Linked DNA regions of Homo sapiens. The protein of the gene in region 1 purifies or fractionates together with the protein of each later gene. This does not show direct contact. Each region holds a gene or a part of one and is shown on either strand. Other genes may lie near its edges.

Region 1 (4,016 bases):
CCAAAGTATATTCTGCGGGGGAGTCAATAGGCATTACATGCAAAAAAGTTTCCGCAGTCAAGTAAGTTTGCAAAACCCTGGGTGTAAAGCAAAGCTAAAGATACTCCTTGCTGCAGGACTTCTCAGAGCCTTTAATACACTCACATGGATTGTGAAATCACAAAAGTATATAAACTGTGTAGTGGACCTGGAATCCACTGAGAAACACTGGACTAAGACAAGCACTTTGCTATGACTACTGTCAAATGTGAATAAAGGGGTGGCTTCTACAGTGAAAATTTCCACTGAACCTTTGCATTACGTAAACCAAGTACTGGATTCTGGTGATTGTGTGAGCAATAGATTCTCAAGCAGAATTGTGCCAGATAGGTACAGAGTCCACCTCTGGCCTCAGCATTTGCTCAGCCTTCTTCAGAGCCTATCCTGTCCCTTGTCTTTCCAAGGAAAGAGACAGCTACTTAGGCACGTGTCCATTTTCTTAGGTTCCTAGATGATTCCAATATGTCCCCTTGCTTAAAAACCACTGTTGTGGAAAAAGCTAGGCTTTGGATACAAATAGATGTAGATAACTCTAACTAAAGCATTTTGGGAAAAATCATTTTATGTTTCAGTTTATTGTTTATAAAATGAGGAGGTTAGTCTAGATCGGTGATTAAACATATTTTAACATGTATACAGTGAAAATCTTTGCTCCAGTGAAATTTTATATGGAATTCCAGTGCACAGAACAGATGCAAGCAGGACTATTCTTGTCAAAACTATGGAGGGCCTGGGCCTTGTGCCCCTGCCTGTCTGTCCTTCACTCCAGTCACAGCCTGGGTTCCCTAGAAAGTAGAGCTCAAGGAAGAAGCTATGTGTTATGACTTTATTGAGGGGTGAGATCCCGGGGAAGCAAAAATGAAGCAAAGGAGGAGAGGTAGGGAAGGAAGGAGAACAAATAGTGTATTACCAAGCTGGCCCTGCCTTCCCAGTGAAAAGCAGCTGGTGGCTCAGTCACTCAGGAGGTATCCAGGGAAGCCTGGTGTGAACAGTATGTCTCAGAATAGTCTGTGGTGGTGAGGCACAGCCAGCAGTTAATCCACAGGTCCTTCTGGTCTGCTGTAGCTCACTGGTCACAAGTCACCCCACGAGGCATGAGTCAACTCCCCTCACTTTGGGGTTGGGAATACCAGGTCAAGCTAGAGCCTCTGTGGGTCAGGCCCTGGGGCTGGGGCTTCCTTGGCTCTCCCTGCAGAAGGTATGTCAGGGTTACCCCTGCAGGAGCCCAGCCTTTGACTCTGAAGGAAGAAAAGACAGCAAGAACTTTAGGGCCAGAGGAACAGCAGAAAGCGTCACTGGGGGCCTCTTGTCCATTAGATACTGACTCTGTTTTCCTCCCTAAATACATATGCTTGCCCCTAACCACTGATTGATGTGAGCAACTCACTGACTTAGAGACGTGGGTCTGCGGTAGGGCATCTGCCTGAGAGTTGCGGCTCCTAGAGGGTAGGGTCAGCCTCTGCTTCCAGCAGTGTCTTGTTTAATCAAGAGCTCAATTCCTGCTTTTTAATAATGGTGAAGAAGCTGCTCCTGGCAGTGGCAATGATAACAAGGATTCAACAGGAAAATGGCTGCAGTTCAGAATTGGGGTGGGGTGGCGTGATGTCAGGTGGGACTCAGCAGATTTGGGCAGATACATAAATTGGGAGTCTGGGATAATGGTTTCCATGCAAAGAACATAAAGTTCTTCAGAACAGAGTCAGATGGCAAGACAGGGCAGGGTACTCCAATTAGGAGCCCCAGAATTCACGAGTCTGTGTCAACACTAGTCGACTACACTATTATCCCATTTAAACCCCAAATAGAAACCACATTAAGAATGGGTGCCAATCCGATTTCTGAAGACTTTTCTAATGTTTTGGGGCTTACTAAGCAACAGCCAGCCTTCCGCATAGTGGTGTGTGACTATTTCAGGGATGGCACGGCTGCTGGGAAGCAGGGGGAGGTCGTAATGACCTCTGCCACCCTCCCAGTTTTAAGAAATAATGAAAGCACTGAAATATAATGCAACAGGGGACATTTCTGCATAAAATATTTCCTGTAAGTCATTGCTTCTAGCTAGTCCTGCCCCTCATCAACGTTTTTTACTACTCTTGTGCTTTGAAGGCCCTTTAGGGTCAGGCTGGGGAGAGGACTAATGGTCATGCTGTGCTTGTGACCTCTTTCCCTGCTCTCTTGTCCATTAGATACTGACCCTATCTTCCTCCCTAAATGCACTTGCCCCTAACCACTGATTGATGTGAGCAAATCACTGACCTAGAGACGTGGGCCTGCATTAGGGTTTCTGCCTGAGAGTTGCAGCTCCCAGAAGGTAGGGTCAGCCCCTGCTTCAAGCAGTTTTTTGTTTCATCAGTAACTCAATTCATGCTTTTTAATAATGGTGAAGAAGCTGCTACTGGCAGTGGCAATGAAAACAGTGGGAATCATGTATTTCTTTATGTTTTAGGTTGAGAGGGATCATTTCTTACTTCTTGTATACTCATTGCCCAACCCAGAGCCTATCTTACTGGAAGCAATTGATAAATATTTGCTGTAAAAATAGAAGGAATAAATGGAGTAGGATAAGGTGGAGAAGAATGACCTTAAAAATATCAAGGCTAGGGTGAACCAGACTAATATGGTGGGTTCTTACTCTGCAGCAGGGACAGAGTAGGGATCACATCAAGTCAGACTGACTGGCTATTCCAGAGGATTCAGATGAATCCAGATGGGTACAGGCTGAGCCCCTCAGTTACCCTCCAGCATCCTGGGTCATAGTGGTTGGGGACAGGTAGGTGCAGTGGTCTTGCACATGGATGCACATGGAATTAAATTATTTCTCTCTGTGTAAAACTCACTATGGGTTTTGGCACTGATAGATTGCGGCGGGGGGTGGGGGGGAGACCAAGCTGAATTTAGCAGAACATTCCAAAGACTAGTCTATAAAATCCTCCATGGAAAGAGCATTCTGTGACCAAGTAAGTTTTGCAAGCATCCTCTCTTTTGTCCTCTTCAGGAGATGCATAAGGGCGAATTAAAGGTGAAGAAGACCTGTTGTTGGGAAACCTATTTATTCTTTGCCCACTGCTTTTCAGGTTATTGGGCCATGGGGATCCGTTTGTGTGGGAGTATTTAAGCCTATTGATGTCTCCTGGAAAGACGGTTCCATAGAAAGGCATTTTGGGAGATGGTGACCTTCAACTGGAAGCTTTCAAGTTTTGGTTTACTTCAGAGGTGAAAAAACCAGAAGAATGAATTCACTGTACTGATAAAATAGGGACTTGTAGGGACTTGTGACCCCAACTTTCAGAGGCACCGCCTGCCTCTTGTCCTTGTCATTTGCTTTTGAGACTCCCAGAAATGACTGCGAATTCTCACAAAACTTTAGCGACAGTGGCCTTGTGATCTGCCTTCAGGTGTATATTTCATAAAGAAACAAATTCAAAAAGTGTGAATGCCACTCTGACAGGTTTGTGGACATGTTTCCCACAAGTGGCACTTTTTGGTTGCACATAACAGATCAAGATGGATGTTTGCAAAATATGTGAGTAATGACATTCACCTTCTCAATTTTTTTTTCTCCAACTGCTTGAATAAGAGGCTTCAATATAACTGACAAAGATAAATGTTCTTTATCAAATTAACAAAGGAAGCTTGAGTTATTAAGACACATCTCCCTAAACTTTGGACGGTTGAAACAAATTTTCTCTTGGGAAGAGAAAACTTTGCCATCCAAGAAAAGGCTGAGGATTTCTAATTAGACTGTAAATCCATGGTTTCCACCACTGGGTAGTGACCTGGAGAGTGAAGTTAGGCATTTCCCATGGAAAGCGTTTTCACTGCCTGGCATTCATCTCACATAGGTAATGATTGTATGTGTGTGTGTGTGAGAGAGAGAGGGAGAGTGTGGGAGTGTGTATGTGGGTTGGGGTAAAAGGGGGTACCCTCTCAGTGGTATTTGGGTTTGAATCACTTGGGGATACTGGTAATTCACGTGC
Region 2 (2,243 bases), on another chromosome or scaffold:
AGATCTTCACCTACGGCAAGCAGCCCTGGTACCAGCTCTCCAACACGGAGGTCAGCCCCGGCCCATGGTCACCCCTTGCTGGCCTCCCCGTCCCATGCCCCTTCAGGTTCCTTTTTCAGGGAACTCGGTTCCCCTTCTGCCCCTCTGCCACAGCCTGTTGGGGGGCCCTTTCCAGCGCCGTGCCCACACTGTGTCCCCTCCACTGTGGCCCTTTTCTTCTCTTCCTCCCTTATTCTTGCCTTCACCTACTGTCCTAAGCCCAGGCCCAGTTGGCCCCTGGGGGAACCTCAAAGTGCTTTGTACAAGGAGCCCAGACCCCCATCCCTAGCTGCATTTTATAGACCTAAGCAGGAATTATCAGAGTGGAAGGGACCAGCACGGGAAGAGGAACCCAGCACAAGAAGGCCCAACACTGCAGCAGGACGGCTGGAGGTTAGACTGTCAGAAGGACAGTCCTACCCCCTCCCCCTGCCCTCCTAGCTGGCCACAGCCAGAGCAGGCCCCAGGTGTTCTGTCTCCCAGAGCAGCTGCCCCCACCCCCTGCTTGGCTCGCAGCTGTCAGTTTCCATTTCTCCTCCTAATGCAGTCTGCTCCCCGGAGGCTGGTGGGGTGGGGGAGAGGGTTATAGATTTTAATTTTCTCAAGCACTGAGAGAAGAAATGGAATTAGTGCCGCCCATAACCCAAGTCCTCTAATAGGGAGGGGGGAAGAAGGGGAAAAGAGGCTCCAGGCCCCTTCTCCAATCACTCCCTGCCACCCTTTCTCCTTTGGATTCCTTGGCTGCTTTAGCAGTTCTTCCTAGAGTCTAACTTTGATCTTTCTTGCTGCAGTTTCTTTTTGGGAGAGCTAGTCAGTCCCACAGAGTGGTATCCCTAGAAGGGAGAAGTAAGGATTGCCCTCTTCTTTAAAATGAAAGCCAGCTATTTTTCACGCCCTTTAACTGCAGTTCTGCTCTATTTTCTTTTCTCTCTCTGGAGCTGAGAGTCAGAGGGCCCTTCTCCTCCTCCTTTCAGCCCCCAACACTAAGCTGATGGATTGATAAATACCTCAGCCCCTCGCCTTCCTCAACCCACCTGGCAAGTCTTCTTAGGATCTGATCCCAGTTTTCTGGAAGCAATCCTACCCCAGCCCAAGCTTCCCATAGTCGAGCCTTAATCCTTCTCACTTCTCAGTGTCAGAGCAGAAATGAATCCTGGGGTTGACTGTGTCCATTCGGGTTATTAGCAGCTAAGAAGCCCAGACGAGTAGTGTGAGCTGCCTTGGGAGCCTCAGTGAGGGCACTGGGACTGGCCTCACTCTCTTGCCCCCAGCCTAGTGGGCTTTCTCCTCTGTCTCTCCGGTGGCCCCAGGCAATCGACTGCATCACGCAGGGACGTGAGTTGGAGCGGCCACGTGCCTGCCCACCAGAGGTCTACGCCATCATGCGGGGCTGCTGGCAGCGGGAGCCCCAGCAACGCCACAGCATCAAGGATGTGCACGCCCGGCTGCAAGCCCTGGCCCAGGCACCTCCTGTCTACCTGGATGTCCTGGGCTAGGGGGCCGGCCCAGGGGCTGGGAGTGGTTAGCCGGAATACTGGGGCCTGCCCTCAGCATCCCCCATAGCTCCCAGCAGCCCCAGGGTGATCTCAAAGTATCTAATTCACCCTCAGCATGTGGGAAGGGACAGGTGGGGGCTGGGAGTAGAGGATGTTCCTGCTTCTCTAGGCAAGGTCCCGTCATAGCAATTATATTTATTATCCCTTGGCTGTGTCTCTTGCCAGTTATTGGGATGACGTCGTTCCAGGAGGGAGGCATTGGGATTCAGGTAGGGGGACAGCTCTCTGGGATCTTCCCCCACTCAGGTTCCCCTCAGCTGCCTACCCCTACTCCATGGACCTGTCACTCTCACCTTTGACTATAGTTTGGATCCCATTCCCATGGTCACCTGGCTCACCTGCTGGTAAGGCAGCCTCTGGTCAAACTTCCTAGACCTTGAGAGCCTAACTGTCAATCTTTGTAGTTCATGTTCAGGAAGGCTGGGCTATAGTGGAAGGGGTGGAAGTTAGATGTACTGGTAGGATGGGAGCGTTGATGGGGTGTCTTCCTTGTATTGGTGTGTCCGGGACAGAGCAAGCACGCAGCAGCAGATGAGAGAGAAACATGTGTGTGTGTGTGTGGGGTGATGGGGGGCAGGAAAGGGACGGAGCTGGACTAAGGATTGATGGAGGCAGGACCCCTTGTTCCTGCCCCTCTGTTACTCTTCT

The links.
Region 2: the proteins of PLXNA4 (region 1) and NTRK1 purify together in Homo sapiens (affinity purification with western blotting; 2 studies listed by BioGRID, with this or other methods). This does not show direct contact.

Annotation. Positions count from the first base shown.
Region 1 is NC_000007.14:132,566,196-132,570,211, reverse strand, and holds part of PLXNA4 (plexin-A4 isoform 1 precursor), read left to right. Parts: intron 1-4,016. UniProt on the Homo sapiens protein: Coreceptor for SEMA3A. Necessary for signaling by class 3 semaphorins and subsequent remodeling of the cytoskeleton. Plays a role in axon guidance in the developing nervous system. Class 3 semaphorins bind to a complex composed of a neuropilin and a plexin.
Region 2 is NC_000001.11:156,880,108-156,882,350, forward strand, and holds the end of NTRK1 (high affinity nerve growth factor receptor isoform 2 precursor), read left to right. Parts: coding exon 1-50; intron 51-1,349; coding exon 1,350-1,535; 3' UTR 1,536-1,743; downstream 1,744-2,243. UniProt on the Homo sapiens protein: Receptor tyrosine kinase involved in the development and the maturation of the central and peripheral nervous systems through regulation of proliferation, differentiation and survival of sympathetic and nervous neurons.